Homo sapiens: one gene and its partners. The protein of the gene in region 3 purifies or fractionates together with the protein of the main gene of each other region. This does not show direct contact. Each region holds a gene or a part of one and is shown on either strand. Other genes may lie near its edges.

Region 1 (7,109 bases), on a different chromosome or scaffold from region 3:
CTCCAAGCTTCAATTTAATGTAGTAAATGTAGTCATTGAGACTTTTTTCTGCTATACGGTCATTAGGAATTATAGTTACCAAATTATCTAACACACACACACACACACACACACACACACACACACACACACACAGAGTGAAAAGAAGTTTCATAAAACAATACTTAGTGTAATGCATTCTGATATTCTTTGCTCTGTTCCATTCCATTTTTTTAAAAATCCTGGTCATGACTCACAGAATTCATTTCATGACCTAATGGCTTGCTTGAAATACACTGGTTTAAGATTAGTAGATGGGTATGGCAAAGTTAAATAACACACATATAAAGCACTTACTATCCTGGCTGTCACAGAGCTAGGGCTCAAGAAATGTTTGGTTTCTTTCTTCCCTAGGAGCGATGACTAATATCAGAGCCTAGCTCTGGAAGCCACTAGGCAGTAAGGCTGGCGGCTGGCTGCCAGGAGAAAGCCTGTGAAAACTGCCATGGCTGCTGCCCCTCCTTCCAGTTCCATGCCTTCCCTGTTCACTGTGCTGACTGAGCTGGCCACAGTGCTAAGACCAAGCCTCCACCCAGTCCTGCCTCAGTGTGGCCGTCTACATGAGGTGGGCACTAAAGACCCATCTGGGAAGCTATTGGCCCACCGGGACTTGGCTCTGGGGGCTGGATTGCCTTCTCTTCTTCTTTCCATTCCCAATCTCATCCTTTCTGGGACCATCTTTCTCATGACAGGGCTCCAGTGTGTGTGTGGGGTGGGGTGCTACGCTTGGAAGGGTGGGGCAGCTTTAGCCCTGCCCTCCTTCCACTGCTCTGTATCTCAGGGGAGCGTCTTGAGAAGGGGAAGCCAGGGAGAGCCCAGAGCACAGCATTAAGGGAACATGCTGAAATTCACCACATTACCACAGTATCATTTGTTTTCCCTTCATGTAAAGTCTTAACAAACAGCTCCTAAGTGGGGGAAAGCTGCCACTGAGAGGCTGAGTTTCCATCGCTAATAGTCTGATTAAAAGGTATTAAAGACTCCACATCTGTTTCAGAGACAGCCCAGAGTGGGGCCTCATCCTTGCTTGCTCTGCAGCAAGTATGGTGGGTGGAAGTGGGAGAAATGCCACCAGTTCCTCCCCTCTCCCTCTGAGGCTGGGCCTCCGGTTAACTCGGGAGCAGAAGGGCAGTTAGGAGGGGAGGCGGGTGGAGCCCCTCCCAATCAGAAAAAGAGCTTGGACATGGATGGATTCCCAGGAGGTCCCCAGGGGGACCAGACCAGTGTGACTATGACAAGTGCCACTATGTGCCAGGCGCTCTGCTAGGCACTTTACACAGATTATTCCCAGGCTTACAACACTGGCAAATGGGTAAAACCATCCCCTATTGTAGCTGCAGAAACTGAGGCTCTGAAAGATGAATCATCTTGCTGCCCAAGGCTGCATGGCTGTTTAGTGGCCAAGTCGGAATTTGAACCCATGTACGTATATCTCTTATCCTAGGACCCAGCTGGATCCTTCTTTGGCTGGTTTCTCCTAAGAGGGAGCCAGCATGGACAACCAAAGAGACAGGCTGGTATATTTCCCCACAGCTAGAGCAAGAACAGAGCACTTCTAAAGGAACCAATGCTCAGGACATCAAGCGAGGCCCTCTTCTCCACACTGGAAGGACCCAAGTAACTGTGTGGATAAGCCCCAGCTGATCAAACTAGCCCTGAGCCCTTCAGGCCGTCCCAGATGAAACCCTCTTCAGTCTGCCCAGAAGCACTGGTTCTGAGCTGGCACTGGACTTGGCCAAAGCCTGATGACAAGGAGACAGGGAGAGTGAGAACCCCACCTCAGGCGGCTCTCCTCTCTCTGGCTGCTCCTCCTCCCTCCTCCCCAATCCCAGGCACAGGAGCATGACCAGGTGGTCTCATCACTTACCAGCCACTCAGCAAAGCATGGTCCTAGTGCAAAGCCCTTCAGCAAGAGGACTATACAGCCTCTCTGAGTTTTCCATGTTTGACCCAAGTCCTTGCTGCTGTTGCTGAGTCCCACTGCACCTCTGCTGCGAGGCTCTCCCTGACCCCTGCACGCTGCGGCTAGGGCCACCTTCCTATGACACACCAACTCATGCTGTTTCCCTGCCCAAAAACCCCAGCTGGGACCCACCTGCTCACAAATAAAACCCTGCTGGGCCTGACATTCAAGGGCACTCCCAGCCTCACCTCCCCCCTTACCCCCCAGCCCAGCCTCTGGCCACACTGGTCCATGCATCCTCTGTCTACCTGCGGTGATCCTCACTCAGGCCCTTGTGCACGCTGCCCCTCAGGCTTCCCTCCAGCAATCATGATGCTACTTAAGTATTAACACCTGATTGAAATAGCGCATTCTTAAGGACGAGCAAACACTTGTAAAGCTTCCATACACACGATCGCAACAGTTATGCTGAGGTAAACATGATTATGTGTATTCCAGACTTAGAAAACTAAACCAGGAGGTTAGCACCAAGGATAGTAAATGGCAGGGCTCGGCCCCTCCCAGGACTGTGATTAACCACAATGCTGTGCTGCCCCACTGGAGGCTCTAGAAGCGTCTGTTGAACCGCACATCTTTCTATTCTGCCCTCAGGGGAGGAGGCCGACTGGATTGCCCTCATCAGTGTGTCTGTTCCGTGTTTCACTGTCAGCTTCCCAGGGCTGGGGTCCTCAGAACACAGCTGCCACCCATGTGCAGACAGGAGGGGAGACTGCTCCTCAGTGGCCCGAGTCTTCTCCCCGGTGCCTGCATGTTCCAGTTCCCATCATCATCATCACCTTTCCTTGATTTCCCTGTATACTCTCTCCCAAAGGGGGCCCAGAACTCTACCCACTGCCCCAGCAGGGTGAGCACTTTGAAGACCTCTCCAGAGCTTGGGCCCATGCTGTGAGCAGCGACATCCCCAGCCTCAGAGAAACCATGTGTCTCTCTTCAAAGAGGGCCCAACCTGCACATCTAAAACAGCTCTGTTTGCCGTTTCTGCCCCAGCAAACATGCTTGCTTCCTCCTTTCAAAGGACGTCTGAGCCCAGGGATTATGCCTAATGCTGCTGGAATCCCAGGGGAGGCAGCGCCCAGCAATCAGGGCCTACTGAGGCTCTGCCAGCGCTTTCAAAGGGAACATGACAAGCTTTCATCTCCCTCCATGAACGGGGCTGAGGCTGAGGGGGAGGCCTCCTCTTCCTCTTCCAGTTCTTTACCCCCTGGGCAGGAGAGCTCCTGGTCACAGGAATTGGGGAGAAGGAACCAAGGGGTCCCTAACCCTGAAAAAATGCCCTGACCTCCAGATCTCACCCCTAACTGGGTCCCAGACTTCTGGGGCGTAGGGCCTGAAAGCTCCTGGAGCCTAGACAGAATTTTCCTTCTAAAGTCATCGAGTTGTACAGGCCTAGGCGAACTTTCAAGGAACCCAAGAGGCCATGTCCTGACTTTGTTCCTCTTGGGGTGAAACCCAGAGACATGGCTACAGCCTAGGTGCTGCTGCCGCTCAGCTGAATGCCTGCCCCCCAGCCCCATGTTTCCCCACATCCCTTTCCTCTGTGCACTGAGAGGGGCAGTAGATTATCCCTCGTCGTCCAGGACTAGGGCCCCCAGTCTCTGTAAAGACAAGCTCCTTGGGTTCTGTCCAGCCCCAATGCCCTGTTCATCCTCCCTGCAGTTCAGCGGTCACTCTCCCAACCACCCTGAGTGGGCACTGAAAATCCCCCTCTGCCAGGAAGCCTTCCTTCCCAGACTAACACAACGAGAAGGGTAACTTTCCGACCCCTTGTCTAGTAAAGAGGGGCCTCCCAAGGCACCTGACTTTTCAGCTGACCACCCGTCTTACGAAGCCAGATCTTACTGCCAGCCTTTACGTTTCCTGCTGCTTTACCTGCTTTTGGCCGTCTTGGGGCTTAAACCCCCGAGGGCAGACATAAGGTCTGTGCAAATCTCAACACTGTGCCACCTGCAGGTTTTCTGAATACACTGAGAAAAGCAGAGTTGCTGAACCACAGACATCTGTGACCTGGAGACCACACAGAATCACAGGAGGTGAGGGGATAGAGAGATGATGCCAAAGAACGGGACTGGGGGCACTTCCTTACCCAGCCAAGGGCACCCAATGAGATCTACCTGCCCCAGGCCACAACCAGCGAGAGTTGGCTGCACCCTAGGTCAGGGTATCAAAGAGATTAAACACAACTTTTTATGAGCTTTTAGAACCTCAGGTGAGAGGTGAGGGCGTGTCATCCTGTCCATCCCAGGGCCGCAACTTCCCCTACAGGAGGGAGCATGGCTCGCCAGCTTCTATGTGCTGCAGCCTATCACAGCCTACTGTCCTCCCAGGCAGTCCTGCCACAGTTACCAAATCTAGCCCTTCTTCCTCCCAAGGCCCCCTCATACAAACAGGCTTCAAATGAGGAGCACTCCAGGTCTCCTGGGGGTAAGAGAGACCTGGGTTCATACCCAGGGACGGCAAGCTGCTCTCCCCAAGCTGCCCTCCCTCTGGCTCCCTGGCTAGGATGGCAGGAGACATAACAAGGCCATGCCCCAGAGCCATGCATTCCACGGAAATCATTGGGCTGCATCTCTCAATTACTACCCCAGCCAGGACTGCAATTACCACATTACCCCTAATCGCTGAGTGTTTATTAGCGATGCTCCTCCCCTATCAGAGCTGCTATTACTCTACATTAATAACCAGGTAGGCACACGAGGTTTCCTCTTGAACACAGACCACCCAACTGCCAGTGCCACCACCTCCCAGGCCCTAGCTCCAATGGGGCGAGGCTCATCCCCTCTGCTCCACCTTCGGCCAAACTCATGTCAGCAGGAGGCTGGGGGCAAACTGGGAGCAGTCCAGGCATGTGCGCAGGGTGGGGCAACACAGCCCTCGAGAGCAGCCAGGCTCCCTCCCTGATCTGCCCTTCTCTTCGCTGTTCATGCTGGCCCAGACCCACATCACCCAGGCAGCTTCACACTTAGACTTGAGCCCCTGGGTCCTCTTTTTGGTGAGGAACTGGCTCATGGTCTTGCAAGGGAGCCCAGCCCACCTACCCCATAGTTAGACCACGCTGTCTACAGGAAGACTCCCAGCCTCCTCCTCATATTGTGTTAAATCTCTCTGTCCCTGGATGAAGCCAAGCTGTCTTCTACAAACTTCTGAAGGCAGCTATCATGCGTCTCCTTTAGTTGTTTTTCTTTTCCTTTAAGCTAAATGACTCTCAGTTTCTTCAACTAATTCTCTGAGGCCTAGCTGAGGCGCTTCCCGACTAGATATTCCTTATGCATACGCATGAGTTCACTCAGGGCATCCCTCCATCAGTCAATAAACAGGAGTATCTTCCAGCAGCAAGGCCCTGGGGACAGAGCTCAGAGTGGAAGCAGCAGCCAACCCCGCCTGCCTTGGCTCCACGCCTCTAAGCAGCCCGCTCTGCTGTCTCATGCACCCAGCTAGCTGGTACATGAGCGCATAAAGGGGGAGCCCGAGGCACACGGGGCTGTGCAGTCCTCACTCAGGCAAGATTCCCCTAGACCACCTGGGGAGTGCAGGGCTCATCACAACTCTGCTCAGCATGGAGGTACACCACGTCTCACTCCCACGAAGAGCCCTTCACCTGAGCCCTCCTGTCCCCCCGGGTTTCCTCGCCATGGTGTCCACAACTTTTTAGTATGAGGATGAATGGGAAGACGGTGACAGCGCTTGTTAACTGCACTGGGCCTGGTCCAAGCCCTGCCAGCTCCCCACCATTGCATGAACTCCTGGAGGCCTTGCAGGCTGTCTGGGGTCAGTGGTTCCCCACTTTCCTTGTCAGATAAAGCCAAACCCCCTTAGCTTGACATTTGGGACTTTTAATAATGTGACCTAAATCTACTGGCCAGCTCTCTTTGCCACTATTCAAACATCTCTACCCTATCCTTGCAACGCTCAAAATTCCTCACACATACTTGGCAATGTCCCCTGCCCGGCACCACTGTCTCATTCCTCTTCCGCTCTTGAAATCCTACATTTCTCCCCAGACCCTGGAGCTCTGGTTTGCATTGAGCAAGTGTTCAACAGATGTTTGTGGAATCACTGGACAAACAAATTAACCTGCTGCCGTCCAGTCCACCAGCAGCTTGTCACCAATGTCTGAGCACACGGGGGATATCATGTGTATCTATGTGTGACTGGCTCTGGCTGGCTGCGCCCCCTCTGCCTGGAAGCACAGTACAGCAGGATGACATGGCTCCCCCGGCTTGTACATGGAGACTGCTTGATGCCCGGTGTCCTGCTTCATCTGGAAGGGCAAAGAGCAGGTCCCTGCTGAGTCTGGGTGATGTGTACGACACTGACCAGAAGAGCAACTTGAAGCATTTTGGGGAGGTGGGACCTGGACCTAGGTGACGCTCCTCTGGGTTTTGCCCTGGGGACGCACATGCAGGGACCCAGGGCCTGGGCACTCAAAGCCCTCTTACCTCATTCTCCTCCTCATTGTGCAGTTGCTCAGTATATGCATCCGGCTTTCGGATCAGAGGGTCCACCAGCATCAGGAAGGCCATGTAGAGCAACAGGGCACCCACCACGGACAGGTAGATGACAATGATGACCTGAGGAAGAGACCGGCGTGCCTATGAACCATTATCTGAGGCCAGGGCTAGAAATCCGTTGCTAGTCTTGGGCCATCTGTGTCCGGCTGGCAGTGACTCCTCAAGTGGTGCACTAAGAAAGGACTTGGAGGCAACGTGGGCTCAGAGGGAAAGCATGCCCAGAAAGGAAAGGGAGGGCCCTACTCCACAGAGGAAGCACTCTGTCCTAACTTGAGGGAGTCTGCACAGCAGGCATCACGACAGCAGGCAGATGACAGAGGAAGAAGTCTGGAGCCTGATGCCGAGAGGCTCCCGGGGTAGAGATGGGAACACAAGGGCCTCCCTGGCTGTAGAAGAGTTCATGATGAAGGGTGGAAAGCAATCAGAAACTAAGAGCAAGGAAGAACAGGCTGTGGAGAGGCTGGAAAGCTGGGGCCAGGAAAAGTAAACCTGGGCTGGTGGGCTCATTGCTCCTGTGGAGAGCAAGACGGATGGGGCGCGCTGGCCCACTCATGGCATGCCCCTGAGCAGAGTGGCTAGGGCTGGTAAGAAGGTGTGTG
Region 2 (7,796 bases), on a different chromosome or scaffold from region 3:
TCAATTACATACCTTTATAATAGTATAATGAATAGTACTCTACCTATATAGGGTGATATAGATAAACTGAAGGATGGAAGATGGAGAAATACATGTGTGTATTACCAGTCTTCAGAGTATAAACACATATCTTATTTCCTATAGAAAAAGTAAAATAATGGCCCAAACTGAAAAATTAAGAATTAGTAGTATAAGCATGCTATTTAGAAATACGGAGATAAATACCAGAAGAGGTAGCTGGGTGAATAGAGATTATATCTAGGGAGTAGAAACTGAGAGTGTGGAGGGCTGGGACAGGGTCTGCTGTTTTTCATTATAAACCTAGTGATACTATTTGATTTTTAATGTAATGATAAAAATAAAACAATATGATTAATGTGGTATTTCATTTATTTGAAAATCTTAGGAGGGACTGTATTCATTAAGTTTTTTTGTTTTGTTTGTTTGTTTGTTTTGAGACGGAGTTTCGCTATTGTTGCCCAGGCTGGAGTGCAATGGTGCAATCTCAGCTCACTGCAACCTCCGCCTCCTGGGTTCAAGGATTCTTATGCCTCAGCCTCCTGAGTAGCTGGGATTACAGGCGCCTGCCACCACGCCTGGCTAACTTTTTCTATTTTTAGTAGAGATGGGGTTTCACCATGTTGGTCAGGCTGTTCTTGAACTCCTGACCTCAAGTGATCTGACTGCCTCAGCCTCCCAAAGTGCTGGGATTATAGGCATGAGCCACCATGCGCCCAGGCTGGAGTGCAGTGGCATGATCTCGACTCACTACAACCTCCGCCTCCTGAGTTCAAGCGATTCTGGTGCCTCAGCTTCCGGAGTAGCTGGGATTACAGGTGCCTGCCACCACGCCCTGCTAATTTTTGTATTTTTAGTAGAGATGGGGTTTCACCATGTTGGCCAGGCTGTTCTTGAACTCCTGACCTCAAGTGATCTACCTGCCTTGGCCTCCCAAAGTGCTGGGATTACAGGCGTGAGCCACTGCACCTGACCTGTTTTCATTAAATATTCTAAGGTACTGGGAAATCAACAATATTGATTTAGCACCTCTAAAAGGAACTAAAAATTCTCCCCACTTTGGTACTCACCTGCACTGTGGTGTTTTATTTCAGGGAACCCAGTAACATCAGCAGTGGCACCAGCAGCTCTAGAAACATATTCTGTCCCCATAAATTGTTGTTATCATGGTGAACACCAGCAAGTGATGCACTTAGGTGGCTTTACAGGCAGCAGTAGGCTTTACAGTGGGCTGAAAAATCCCACTAAACAGGGCTGAGTAGGAGGGAGCATCCTAGTGGGTGCACACAATAAAGAAGAGGGCTCATAAGACGTTTCCAGAGTATGCTCAGAAATAACTGGAAGGATGTGTGTGTCCCCAGCCATAACCACTGGAGCCACAATACAAGGAAATCACCAATGTTGTGCATAACTCCATTTGTTCTCCTGGACTGGTGTTGCCTAGGCAAGTGCTGGGTAGATCAGAATGGATGGGGTGGAAGAATTAAGGGGCATCCAGAGAGCTATTTGATCACTGGAGGGGAAAGGGCATGGGGGGATGCAGACAGGTGGCAAAACCTGGGTCCAAGATATATTTGTCCCAGATATATAAATTGTCACTTTTCTCCCTCCCCTTCTGACTTGCACACTTACAAAGAAGGTTCCTCTTCCTTTTCTAACCATCCCCCACCAGGGAATTTTTCAGGCCTTACAAAGAAGGGAGAGGACCCAGGCCAGTTGGGAGGGTACACGTGGACCTACATCACTCTTTTTGAGGAAGTGAGTAGGGAAACCTAGTTATAAGGAAGCAAGGAAAATAGAGGGAGAGTGAGTACTAAGGCCAGCGCCGTCTATAAACAGAACAATTCCCGTGTGACCTGAAGGTCTAGGAAGACCCGAGGTGAGAAATCTTCACTCCCCTGCCTACTATGGTGCGCCGGATCCCGCCATTTGCACATCTTTGGGCATCTCAGCATCCCCTCTCATGGTCAGAAAGAAATCAAATGAGGATTCAAGTAGGTGCCTGATACTTTTCTTTTAGACTAACCAGAGGAGCCTCTCCCATTCCCCTTTTCCCTGGTCCCCACAAACATCATATTGTTTTAATCTGTCTCCAGGTATAACAATAATAAGACAAAGTCCTTACCCTCAGAGAGCTCACAATATTTTGGTGGAGGTTTGGGTATAAAGGCAAATGTGAAAACATAATTTTACTATAATGGGGTAAAGTTAAGAAAGAGATCTATGCAAACATAGAAAGGAGTGCACTTAAGTCAGTGAAGGTTTTCTGGCTTAGAAGAACCCTGACCTAAAGGAAAAGTAAGAGTTACCTAGATAAGAGCAGGGCAGAACAAGAGAAACTGATCCCTCCACTTCTATTGAGTCACCTGAAATTATATTCATTTTTTGGCAGACATATACCTCCCCCAAACATTCGGCTCTAGTTGTGCCAGTTCTTCCTTGTCAGCCCTCTTACCTTGGCCTGAGGCTTCATTGTCTCCAGTCAGGCGACTATCTCATAGTCACACTCCACTCACGGCAGCCACATTCTGTATTCCAGAACAGCACTTCCTGACAGCACTATAACATTTTCTAGCAGCCACATTTAAGAGGTCAAAAAACAAGTGAAATATTTTACTAATATATTTTATTTAACCCAACATATCTAAAATATTTAAACCATATTTTTAAATTACTGAAATATTTTACATTTTAAAAATATTGTCTTTGAAATTAAGTGTATATTTTATACAGCACATTTCAATTCAGTCTAGCCACATTTCAAATGCTCAATTGCCACATGTAGCTAGATAGTGGTTATACTATGGAGCTCTAAAATTCCGCCCAGACTGAGTGTGCTTGGTGTTTCTCCATTAAACAGATGAGGCCCATCAGTCTGAGGCACAACTATGTATTTTCTCTAAGTCTCTGTACCCCCAAGGCCTTGAAAACAATTCGGAAGGAAGAGAAGGCCTATGAGGTTTCAGCTACAGCAGGCACTCCCTTTAGATGCCAAGCCTAGAAAACCCTAAACTGATGCCTAACTTGCAGCTGAATCACCTTTCAGCAATCAGATTCAGTGCCTCACCAACACATTTGATCCAGGGAGTCTCCAGTTTGTCCTTTGTCCAGTAGAAGACCCACTACAAAGCCTTGATAATTCATCAAAGTGACAGCACCTTCACTGGGCAGTCTGGTGAGAGGACATCTAGCCCTGCCACCCTGGTTCCTGTTGGGAACAGTATCAGATACGTTGTGTTAGATTCACATGAATCTAAGAATCACATGGGCGAAAAATATTGAGAGCATTCTGTTAAAACATTTCCACAAATTGGGAAAAGACCATCTTTAAAAATCTGTTGGGGCCGGGCGCGGTGGCTCACGCCTATAATCCCAGCAATTTGGGAGGCCGAGGCGGGCGGATCACAAGGTCAGGAGATCGAGACCATCCTGGCTAACACAGTGAGACCCTGTCTGTACTAAAAATACAAAAAAAAAAAAAGAAAAAGAAAAAGAAAAAAAAAATTAGCCGGGCGGCGTGGTGGCGGGCGCCTGTAGTCCCACCTACTAGGGAGGCTGAGGCAGGAGAATGGCGTCAACCCGGGAGGCGGAGGTTGCAGTGAGCCGAGATCGCGCCACTGCACTCCAGCCCGGGGGACAGAACGAGACTCCGTCTCAAAAAAAACAAAAAAATCTGTTTACAGAGGTAAAAACACGGGTATTACATGGAGCATAATTTGAAATCCATTCCCTCATATTCAGCCAAGAACTACAGGCCCAGAGAAGGGAAGTGATTTGCCAAAGGTCATTCAACAAATCCCTAGGGGCTGTGATGATCCGTGTCCTTGCCATTACCTCCCTTGTCTCCACTAACAAAAATATTTCAATGGGAGAATGTGCCGATCTAAGGCACTCCTAAAGTACTTGCTGAGAATGACAGCCCTGGGGAGACAGGTCGGCAGCCCTGAACAGGCACTGCCTTACCCGGGCGTAGTGCCCCAATTCGCCACCTCTTGGAGTCCTAGGCGGAGGATACTACTGGGGCAGTTGTTTCGCCAATTCCACATCTCCCGGAGCCTGGCCTGGCCCAGCCCAGCCCCGTCGCTGTGACCCACTTCCTAGCTGCAGGCTGGACCAAGGGGAGGCACATGGGGAGCTCCACAGGGAGGCCACGCCCACGAGGGCAGCTCACAGAATTAGAAAGCCGACGGGGTGCTGTGGTCAGGAGGCGCGTGGGCGGCAGGTTAGTACTTAAGGTGCAGAGACCACCCCCAACCCTTTGACTGGCGGTGGGCATCCCGGAAAGGCATGGCTCGGCCAATTCCAGCCCCGTTTCCACGCTCAGCACCCGCCCTGCCTGTGCGCGAACGGCTCCGGCCCGCACGGGTCGCCAGAGGCGACTGTGTGACACTCGGAGTTTGCTGGGGTCTCCGTGGGCGGGAGGACTTTCCAGCGCAATGGCGACTCCCTAAGCCCCGCAGCTTCTGCGCCCGGGAAAGATATCCAAGAGATGCAAAGCTCTACTGGGCCCAGGCTGCCACCCCAGAGGCCCCCTTCCGTCCCGGGGCCGGGGCTAGGCCAAGGCGGGCACCAGGACTGCCCAGCCTCCCGGCCCTTCGCACTGGTAACCGGTTCCGGGGCGGATGCTTTTTGCATCTGACCCGGCGCGCCCGGTGACGCCTTCGCGTCCAGACGGAAGTGCGGGCGGAGGATCCCCAGCCGGGTCCCAAGCCTGTGCCTGAGCCTGAGCCTGAGCCTGAGCCCGAGCCGGGAGCCGGTCGCGGGGGCTCCGGGCTGTGGGACCGCTGGGCCCCCAGCGATGGCGACCCTGTGGGGAGGCCTTCTTCGGCTTGGCTCCTTGCTCAGCCTGTCGTGCCTGGCGCTTTCCGTGCTGCTGCTGGCGCAGCTGTCAGACGCCGCCAAGGTGAGTCCCGCCCAGCCTCGCTCCTGACGGAAGCTCCTCCCCTACCACCGGCCTTGCGGAAACTGGGTCTGCCAACCTGCTCCTTGGCCCATTCCTGACAGCCATACGCCTGGCCTCACAGCTCCGGCAGACCCCCGCCGCCACCAGCCCCGCCCCTCCCGACTGCCCGGCGGCACTCTCGCCCTCAGCCCCGACAGCCTGGCAGGCAGCGCCCCACGGTCGTCCCCAGCCCCGACAGTGCCCACAGTCCGGACAGCAGCCCCCCACCGCCTTAACATTTCCCTTCCCAGCCCCGGCTGCACGCATCTTACACTTGACAACCTTTTCACCTCCGAGAGCCTTTAACTTTCCACCCTAAGCTCTTGACAGCCCACCTGCGCCCTCCGCCAGCCTCACAGGCCCCGCATGCCCCAAGCCAGAATGATAGGAAGCCCCCATCTGACAGAGCCTTCCCTGTCAAGGGCCGACTCAGCTCAGCTCACCCCTGAACACTTCCCTTCCTGTGGTGGGAACTTGCCCCTCCTGGCCTACTTCCCTCCCAATAGGGCCTACGGAGCATCTCTCACCTGCTTCATATTCTCACCTAACTCCCTCCACGAGTCCCTTGGTGCCTTTCTTGCTTTCTCTCTTCCTGATAATTTAGTGGGTAAGGGAAGAACCAAACTGCAAGAGAGGTGAGGTTGTGGCCTCCCTGGTTCGATTTCTTGACCTTCTAGTTCCCTCATACTGTTCTCTGGTGCCCCAGCTCTCCAGACCTGCCCTAGCTCCATGCATACCTGTGCTTCCTCTTTGATGAGCTAGCTCATCATTGGGGGAGAACAGAAGGGATTCACATTAGTATGATGGGAAAACAGAATGACATTGCGTTTTTAAAAATAAGAGCTTTAATTTATAATATCTTTAAATGTAGGAGTGGGGAAAGGTTACAGGCAGGCAAATGTTTTTGATTCAGAGATTCTTTTTGAAACCATCTCTACCTCCTACCAGAAACAGGGACAGCAGCACGTCTCCTGACTTTGAAAACATTGCTGGCACCCTCTGCATATCTTGCCTCATAACTTTATGTATTGTGATCATGTATTTATTTTTCAGTCTCCTTTACTAGGGTGTGTCCTGGTTATGGGCAGAAACCATGTCTTATGCTTATCTGAATCCACCTTATTGAGCACAAGATCTAACACAGAGCAAATGCTCACTAAGTGGTTGCTGAATACGTTTGTGAATTGTCAATAGCTCTGCCAGACATATCACTGTATATAGGAGGAGTGGGCAAGGTCCTCTGGGGAATGATAAGCCACTTCCTTCTCAAACAGATTCCCCTTTGCTGAGGAAGCATCTCTTCTTTTCTCTATCCAGATACTTAGTCACCTGTTCCTCCACCTCTTGAAACTTGTTTTGTTGGTAGTTGTTCTGTCTGTCAACCAGGAATTAGAAGCAAAGTTTCCTGGGAAGAGTATACTAAACTGATCTCAGAGTCAGGCTACTTCCTGTGTGTACTTCCTTTCTAGTTGTAGGTGGGTGCCTCTAACATTTCATCCCTTCTACGGGACTCTGGCCCAACCCGTTTTATCAATGTCAGTGCCTTCTACCAGAGGGTGAAAGGATGATAGGTAGAATTGTGACCTTTTTTGTGAATAATTTTTAGTTTCTTTCCCATCCTTTAGTAATGAATATTCTTATTTACAGGCACAACTATCTGCTTACCATGTGTCTTTCTAGTGGCAGATAGATGGTAATAACATTAACATAATTTGATTGTCATGTGACCCATAAATATGGTTAATAAGTCTTAGATCATGTATTAGGTATTATTTCAAAATAACTACATGTAATATATAATGATTCATTGGCATTACCATAAAGGACTGTGGCTTTTAAAAACTGTGTCTGTTAAAGTTTTAAATGAATGATTTTAGAATACTTGGTATTCTAAAGAGGATGCTTGGCAAAATGTATATGGTACAGTTTTTAAAAATATTGATGATAAACTGTCAACGCACTATACTGTTTCCATTTTGGTTACAGAATTTCGAGGATGTCAGATGTAAATGTATCTGCCCTCCCTATAAAGAAAATTCTGGGCATATTTATAATAAGAACATATCTCAGAAAGATTGGTAAGTATCTGGATTACTGAATTACCTGTCACATTTGTTTCTGTGGTTGTCAGTGTTATCCCAGAATGTTCATCAAATGCATAGTTTTCTTTTTAAGTATTTCATTTGAAGCAAAAATGTGAAATTCTACTTCCATTTGAAAAAGTGAGAGTGAGGCCCTACGTGCATGATGCCTGCAGGCCTAAAGGTATACAGCCAAAACACTAAGACCCATGTAGGCAGAGTTTCATGGGAGCATATGACTGGGTTTGTGGCACCTAAACTACCCATAGCTATCTTGCTGTACTCCCTCAAGTTTTGGTGAGGGACCTTTCTCCCTCTTGCTTTTCAGTGGAAGGTTAGCAAGCCTCGTTTGTCTGGGTTATAATTTTTACAACTTGTAGGTTTTGATGATGTATTGCCAAGTATGGGAAGCTATGTTTAAAAGTGTCAGAAGGCTCAAGAAGAAGTGGAAATGAGCTATGTAGTCAGAGTTTCCCATTTGGTGTAAATGAAGAAGTTACAGTTGTGCCAAGATATTGACCTGTTCAGTCCTTGGGCAGTCAGGCAGGCCTGTGATGACTGGGGGATCCTGACTGACTAGCCACCAGCAGCCTTCTCTGCTTATCCCAGCAGACCTGACAAATAGCTTTTTCTACGTGTGCCATGAAGCAGTTGGGATGCAGTTGTATTACAGCAGGATGAATGTGTTCCTTCCCATAGAATTGTGATGTTTTATGGTTTGTAACCACGGTGGAAGATGGATGGGATAGGAATTT
Region 3 (6,244 bases):
CACAGATACAGCAACCTCCCCATACCTCACCCCACTTTAATCTACAGGGTAACTTCAGAGGATTTCGTACAGAAGACATTTTAATCCCAATACACCATAAAGAGGGTACTAAGAATCCTAGTATTCATGGGAGGACCGTTTTGATTACCCATCCTCCTCCTTGTACAAAGTAGCTGTAGGCAAGAGGCCTGTCAAAGCCCACGACCTTACATCATTAAGAGCTCAAAGAGAGAGAAAAATACAGCTCCCAGCCAATTCTCACATCATCAGGAAAGTATCACCAATGTATGAGACAGGAACATTTAAGTAGCCACAATGAATGAGGTATCCGGGTATCTGGAACATCTCCAAAAACGCAAGCTGCCTCTTATTTGCCTCCTTATGGTAAAGAGTATTACTGAGTCTGTAAATGTGAAAATAACTATTTAATAAATCTTTTTAAGCAGTGGGCCTGCCAGTAGGGGTTTGCAGTTGTGTTTTGTGCTACCCTCCCCTGAACCTTCCACTCTGCCCCTGTGGTTTTCTGATCAGAAATCAATAGCTACCAAGTTTAGGGTCTTTAGAAACACACCAGACACCAGGGTGGATAAGGCTGTGCTTTATTACATGCATAATTACAAATCTGTGCTAAGTGAAAATGTATAAAGCAATGGCGACCTGGGTTTAAGCCACACAGAGAAAGGGCTGGACAATCCATTAACCCTTCTGCCAATGTCCATTCCATTGCTTTTAACATGATTGTTTCCATTTCTTACAATTTGCATAGCACTTACTTGTCAACTTGCTTTGAATTCATTGTCTCAGTTTATCCTCACAACAACCCTGTGAGGTAGGTAGGGCAATTAACACTATCCCCATTTTGCAGATGGGAACACTGAGGCACAGAGCGGTTAAGATCTCGAGGCTAGTTAGTAGAAGCATAGGGAATAGAAATCAGGTCTCCTAACTCCCCAGTCCACATCTTCCTTTTTAGACTATGTTGTTCCGCATGACTAGGGAGTAGAATAAAGCGAGCAGTGAGCCATAGCTCTGGTTCAGGCTATGCCTAGGAACAGGCGAGAATAAAGCTAAGAAAGCATGGCTAAGGGCTAGCAACACTCAGATAAACAACTGCTCTGGACAGCTCAGCACCAAACTTCCTGCGGAAACTTGGGCTCTATTAGCTTTGGTTGAAGCTACTTTCTGGATGCCTAGTTACTGCTGATGTCTAGACATTAGCTTCAGCTGAACTTTCACCAACTCTCAGGCATTAAAATGTCGAGTCAGACAGGTTTTCTTTGGCTACTGCAGTTGGAGCCAGCCCTACAAAGAGCTTACTACAGAGAAATTCAAATAGTGGCCCATGGGCCGGAACCCAGCCCCTCTGATCTTCCTGGCCTCATTGGCTCACTCAACAGGTGGTAGTTTTCCCATAGCCAGAAATGAATGGGCAGAGGTAAGAACAGGAGGCTGGCCTTGGTCAAATGAAGAAGAGTCACCCACATGACATCACTGTCCCCCTTAGCTGACGTGAGCAAGGTACTGACTGGGCCACCTCCTTTCTGGCCTATACCTGGTTAGCAGCATAGCTTCAAAAGAGTTTAAGAGAACAAAATATTAAACACATCATTTTAAAATCCTGAATGGAATAAATTCTTAATCATCACAAAGTCCCAAAGGACCAAATATATAATAAAAAGTAAATACATACTTATAAAAAAAAGCTGAGTGCTAAAAAGCCAGGAAAATGGGAGAGAAAGGAAGAAGAGGGGACAAAGTGAAATGGAGGAAGGAAAAGGAACACACTGGAAGGACCATGTATTTTGAGGTACCCTTAATGTGACAGTGAGGCTGAACATTCCCCTCTCAGGCCACACTCTCTTCTCGATTTTGCCAGATGGCATTTCACTCACCAAATCTTAGACTGCCCCTGAATTCCAACAGATTTGTACTAGTAAGTAATATAGTTTAGCAGTAAATACTTCATATGTCTGCCTTGAGATGCTAAAGCCCTCATCACCCCCGACAAGTATCAATGGCTTTGGCCCTCACAGAGGAGCAAAGCCCTGTTGGTCCCATCAACTCAGACGTATCTTCCAGTTTCTGTTCTCAGAACAATCCTCTCCCTCCCACAAAGTCCACATTCAAAACAACATGCCTATAATAAAAGAAAGAGAAATCTGAATTCAGCGCATGGTGAGGGGAGAGAAAGACAATGAGACAGACAGCAAGGTGGGACGAGGCAGAGAGAAGAGAGGCAGAGATCTTTTTTTTTTTTAAACTCTCATATTTTTATATTATCACATGCTGTTTTTCTTCAAAAGGCCAAACTTTAGGCAAAGCATTCATTCAATAAGTGTGCACACAGAGGCTGAAGGCCCTTTGGCAGGAACTAAGAGGTAGGAATTTATGACTGTAAGACTGGGCTGGGTGACCCGATAGGTCCCATCCAAGAAATGCAAACTCCACACGTCATATACTTTCTTTCTTGGGTGATTTGGCAAAATTAGACTACACCATGGAAAAACCAATTTTGTTCCCTACATCTATTCAAACCTTTACCCAGATCCAGATGTTTAGAAATGAGAATGTGGCCAGCAAACGTTTGGGGAGTAACTTAAAGTTGCTAACACCCATTGTTCTCAGAAATTCTCTCCTTGGAGCAAGCAACTGAAATATGAAACAGAGCAGAGTCAGCGATCACCCCAGGACAACTACACTGATTGAACTTCAAATTGACACAGCTACTGAGCTCTGATCTGAGGAACTCTTACTTTTTTTTCCATATATAAGGATGTACGAGGAGGCAGAAATATAAATTTAAAAAAATTTGCTATCAAAATTCAAGACAATCTATCTAAACCTTATAGTTTAGGAAATGGCAACAGATGCCACATTTCTTCATGAGCAGATGTCTTGGGTCGGCCCTATCCATAAAACCAGACTGCCCTTGAGCCAAACACTGCTTTGAACCACTCATTTGCTTAGAAAGCCTGGCCTTTGAAGCATTGCTTGACTTTTTCTCCCCTTGAGGCACACAATCAAGCAGTTTATAAATGCCAGAACATATGTTGTAGGGGTGTGGGATGGCTTTCCTTCCACCATCTTACACCATTCAAATATTTTCTTACCAGGGCTTTTTCTATGGCCATAACTTTTAGTTTCTTCTCCAAAGGGAACCCAGGCAATCCCAGAGGTGGCTAAAAAAATCAAGGTTTGGCTGGGTGCGGTGGCTCACACCTATAATCCCAGCACTTTGGGAGGCCGAGATGGGTGGATCACGAGGTCAAGAGATCGAGACCATCCTGGCCAACATGGTGAAACCCCGTCTCTACTAAAAATACAAAAGTTAGCTGGGCATGGTGGTGTGCGCCTGTAGTCCCACCTACTTGGGAGACTGAGGCAGGGGAATTGCTTGGACCCGGGAGGCAGGAGGCAGAGGTTACAGTGAGCCGAGATTGTGCCACTGCACTCCCACCTGGTGATAGAGCAAGACGACTCCTCAAAAAACAAAAAAACAAAAAACAAGGTTTTAGGACACTTAAGTTCAGACTACATATTTAGACATCAATTCTTTTTTTTAAAAAAGGACTCAATATTCTACCTCCCACTTACTTTCTAAATTCCTAATTTTTCTCCGGGTTTTTAAGAGCTCAATGTTCTATGCACCACCCAAAAGATGTTTTCCTGCTTCCTCTGAACTGATGGGTGGCTTGCATTTGGCTCTGATCCAGTGCAGGGGACCCAGTTCCTCACAAGACAGTGTGGTCAGTCATCAGTAAGTACTTTGGCAATATAAAATATGCTGGCTGTTTCAAGTTCTCACCATTGTCTTTGCTATCATTATTAAAAACTCAAGTTCAAAGATTGCACTGTTCATTATTTAAAAACAAAACAAAACAAAACAAGAGATAGTGTGGGATAACAAGTGCATCTTCCTACTTATCACCTAACAAAATAAACAATAATCAAGACTGAACCACAACAGGTGATTGAACTACTTAAAACATATAGCAGTGGTTAATTTCTATAATGGACTCTATTGCACACTAAGTTTTTGAAAACATATTTGCCCCCCTCACATCTGAATGCGTTCATAAGATCTTGGTTGTGAATTACTTCACGGCCTTAGATCTCACTAAACCCTGGTTACTTCATCATGTTCAAACAGAATTGAAGATCTGCTAAGAAATGTATAGTATGCTCTGCTCTTCCTGTAAAGGGTTTAGATTCAGCCTCTGGTGTCAAAACAATTCAACTGCTTTTCAGTTCAATCACAAATTAATCGTTTGCTTCACCAGCTGGTAAATTCAAAGTATCATCAATGTCAGCTTATCTACCAGAGGATATCTGTTCTGTGGATCTTACCACCTCTACTCCACAGCTGGGCTGAGCCAGGATGCTGTGGCCAGAGAAAGAGGAGAGCATTGGAATATGTTTCTAACCAAACATCCACGTAGAAATGATCTTTAAAGTTGCCATTATTTTGTATTATCAGTCCCCTGCTTTTTCCCTCCAATATAACGAATCATGCATTAACTGTTTCAGGTTCTTTAAATTCTTTATATTGAAGATTTGAAGATACAAAATATAGCAGTTTTACTTTTACAAATCTATAGACTCTCGTTCCTTTTATGGCTGGATGGCTACCAGCTACTCTTACTTGGAAAATCCTAACTCTGTTGAAACACTAATTGGCATTCTTTTGTAAACCCTTCCCTTGTGTTAGGCAATTTTCTCATTTAATACCAAAATAGTCTCATCTCGACTCATTAATTTTTAAATCACAAACCATCTAGTCTTTTGCCATTGAGGTATGTGGCCATTTGATGCTACTGACAGTCCTCCCTATACTGGCTGTATTTGTTGCTTAAGCATGTCCAACTGTTAAAGTGGCAATGGCAGAAAGAACATTTTCCTTCTCCTCAAGACAAGAAACTTCAAATGTCAAGGTGCTGAGCTAGCAGTTGAGAGCTCTAGCTGCAATTAGCCAACCTTTGAGCCAAACCATAGGACTGGACATATAGTGGATACCATATACCATAGCTACTTCTAGCATACAAGCTACAAGGATTCCTGAGAAGCTGAGGTTAATGAATGAGATTGATCAGGAGTGAGGTATCAAAGGGATATTGTCATTCTCTGGAGGGCCAATCGGTGCTTAGCATCTACAAAGTATACCTTGGCACAGTGTTATCTGATTTCTCTAATTTATTCTCTGAAGTAGCACCTTAACACTGGCTCATCTGTCTAAAATCAAGAACAAAGCCTAGAAGAAACACAAAAGCAAACTTGAGACACCCTCCTTATCGCTACTGCACTATGAAATATGACCAAACCTTTCATTGTCATTAAATACCAGAAATAGTAACATTTTCTGTTTTGCAAACTTTAGTGGGGAAGGACAACTAATAAGACAGGTATTGGACCAGAAATGTACAGATAAGAACTTTGATTTCTACACAATATACAGGGTAGTCAAGCCAAATAGTCTCATATGAAGGAATCAGTGACATGGAAAGGACAAAATATGTGGTTACTGAGCCATTACTATGATACAACATACCCCAGAAAGATTTTTTTCTTTTTCATTAAAATGCTAGAGTGATCTATTCACAAGGAGAAACTCTAGCGACTGCCTTGATTATTTTAAAGATAAAAATAAAATAACCCTTGGCTACCCAGTTCTGAGCAAAAAAAAGAATTTCAGATTTTGGAAAGACAAGAACTATGGGTAAAAACGTCCTAGAATCAGGGATCAGCAACTCTTAAAATGAGGTACACTGAAGTGTTTGGGGGTAGAGGGTTGGTGGGAATATGCAGAATGACCGCTGATTCTGGGCTGGAAGGATGATGAGAAGTGCTAGGAACAGAGCTATAAAATCATCCAGGCTGAACTCTTACCCCGGCAGTGAAATCTCACTGCCGTAGGCATCCAGTGTGGAAATGGAGGCATGGCAGCAGCAACTGGGCCACATGGCAAAGGAAATGGCTGTGTGTCACCTCTGGTCCATGTGTTGTGAGACTGCTGAGCCTTGGTTTACAATTTAACTAGCCCTGGGAGTTATTTTTTTTTGTAGTAGGAATGATTAACCAGGAGCAGCGCTCAATCCCAAACAGAGGATTTGGTACTAAGGAGTAAGAAGTGGAACAGAATGGAGGGGGAGTAATTGCACACAGGTAAAACTACAGAAAATGAAATAGTGGTTGGAATGATGATGGTGGCTCTGTAATTCCACCAAGTGTCCCCAGAGTGTGATTTTTT

What was found.
Region 1: the proteins of CLCN5 (region 3) and TMEM9 purify together in Homo sapiens (co-immunoprecipitation; 3 studies listed by BioGRID and IntAct, with this or other methods). This does not show direct contact.
Region 2: the proteins of CLCN5 (region 3) and TMEM9B purify together in Homo sapiens (co-immunoprecipitation; 4 studies listed by BioGRID and IntAct, with this or other methods). This does not show direct contact.

The regions. Positions count from the first base shown.
Region 1 is NC_000001.11:201,137,382-201,144,490, forward strand, and holds part of TMEM9 (proton-transporting V-type ATPase complex assembly regulator TMEM9 isoform a precursor), read right to left. Parts: intron 6,571-7,109; coding exon 6,439-6,570; intron 1-6,438. UniProt on the Homo sapiens protein: Transmembrane protein that binds to and facilitates the assembly of lysosomal proton-transporting V-type ATPase (v-ATPase), resulting in enhanced lysosomal acidification and trafficking.
Region 2 is NC_000011.10:8,961,334-8,969,129, reverse strand, and holds the start of TMEM9B (transmembrane protein 9B isoform a precursor), read left to right. Parts: upstream 1-4,687; 5' UTR 4,688-4,816; coding exon 4,817-4,921; intron 4,922-6,946; coding exon 6,947-7,038; intron 7,039-7,796. UniProt on the Homo sapiens protein: Enhances production of pro-inflammatory cytokines induced by TNF, IL1B, and TLR ligands. Has a role in TNF activation of both the NF-kappaB and MAPK pathways.
Region 3 is NC_000023.11:50,093,570-50,099,813, reverse strand, and holds the end of CLCN5 (H(+)/Cl(-) exchange transporter 5), read right to left. Parts: 3' UTR 584-6,244; downstream 1-583. UniProt on the Homo sapiens protein: Proton-coupled chloride transporter. Functions as antiport system and exchanges chloride ions against protons. Important for normal acidification of the endosome lumen. May play an important role in renal tubular function.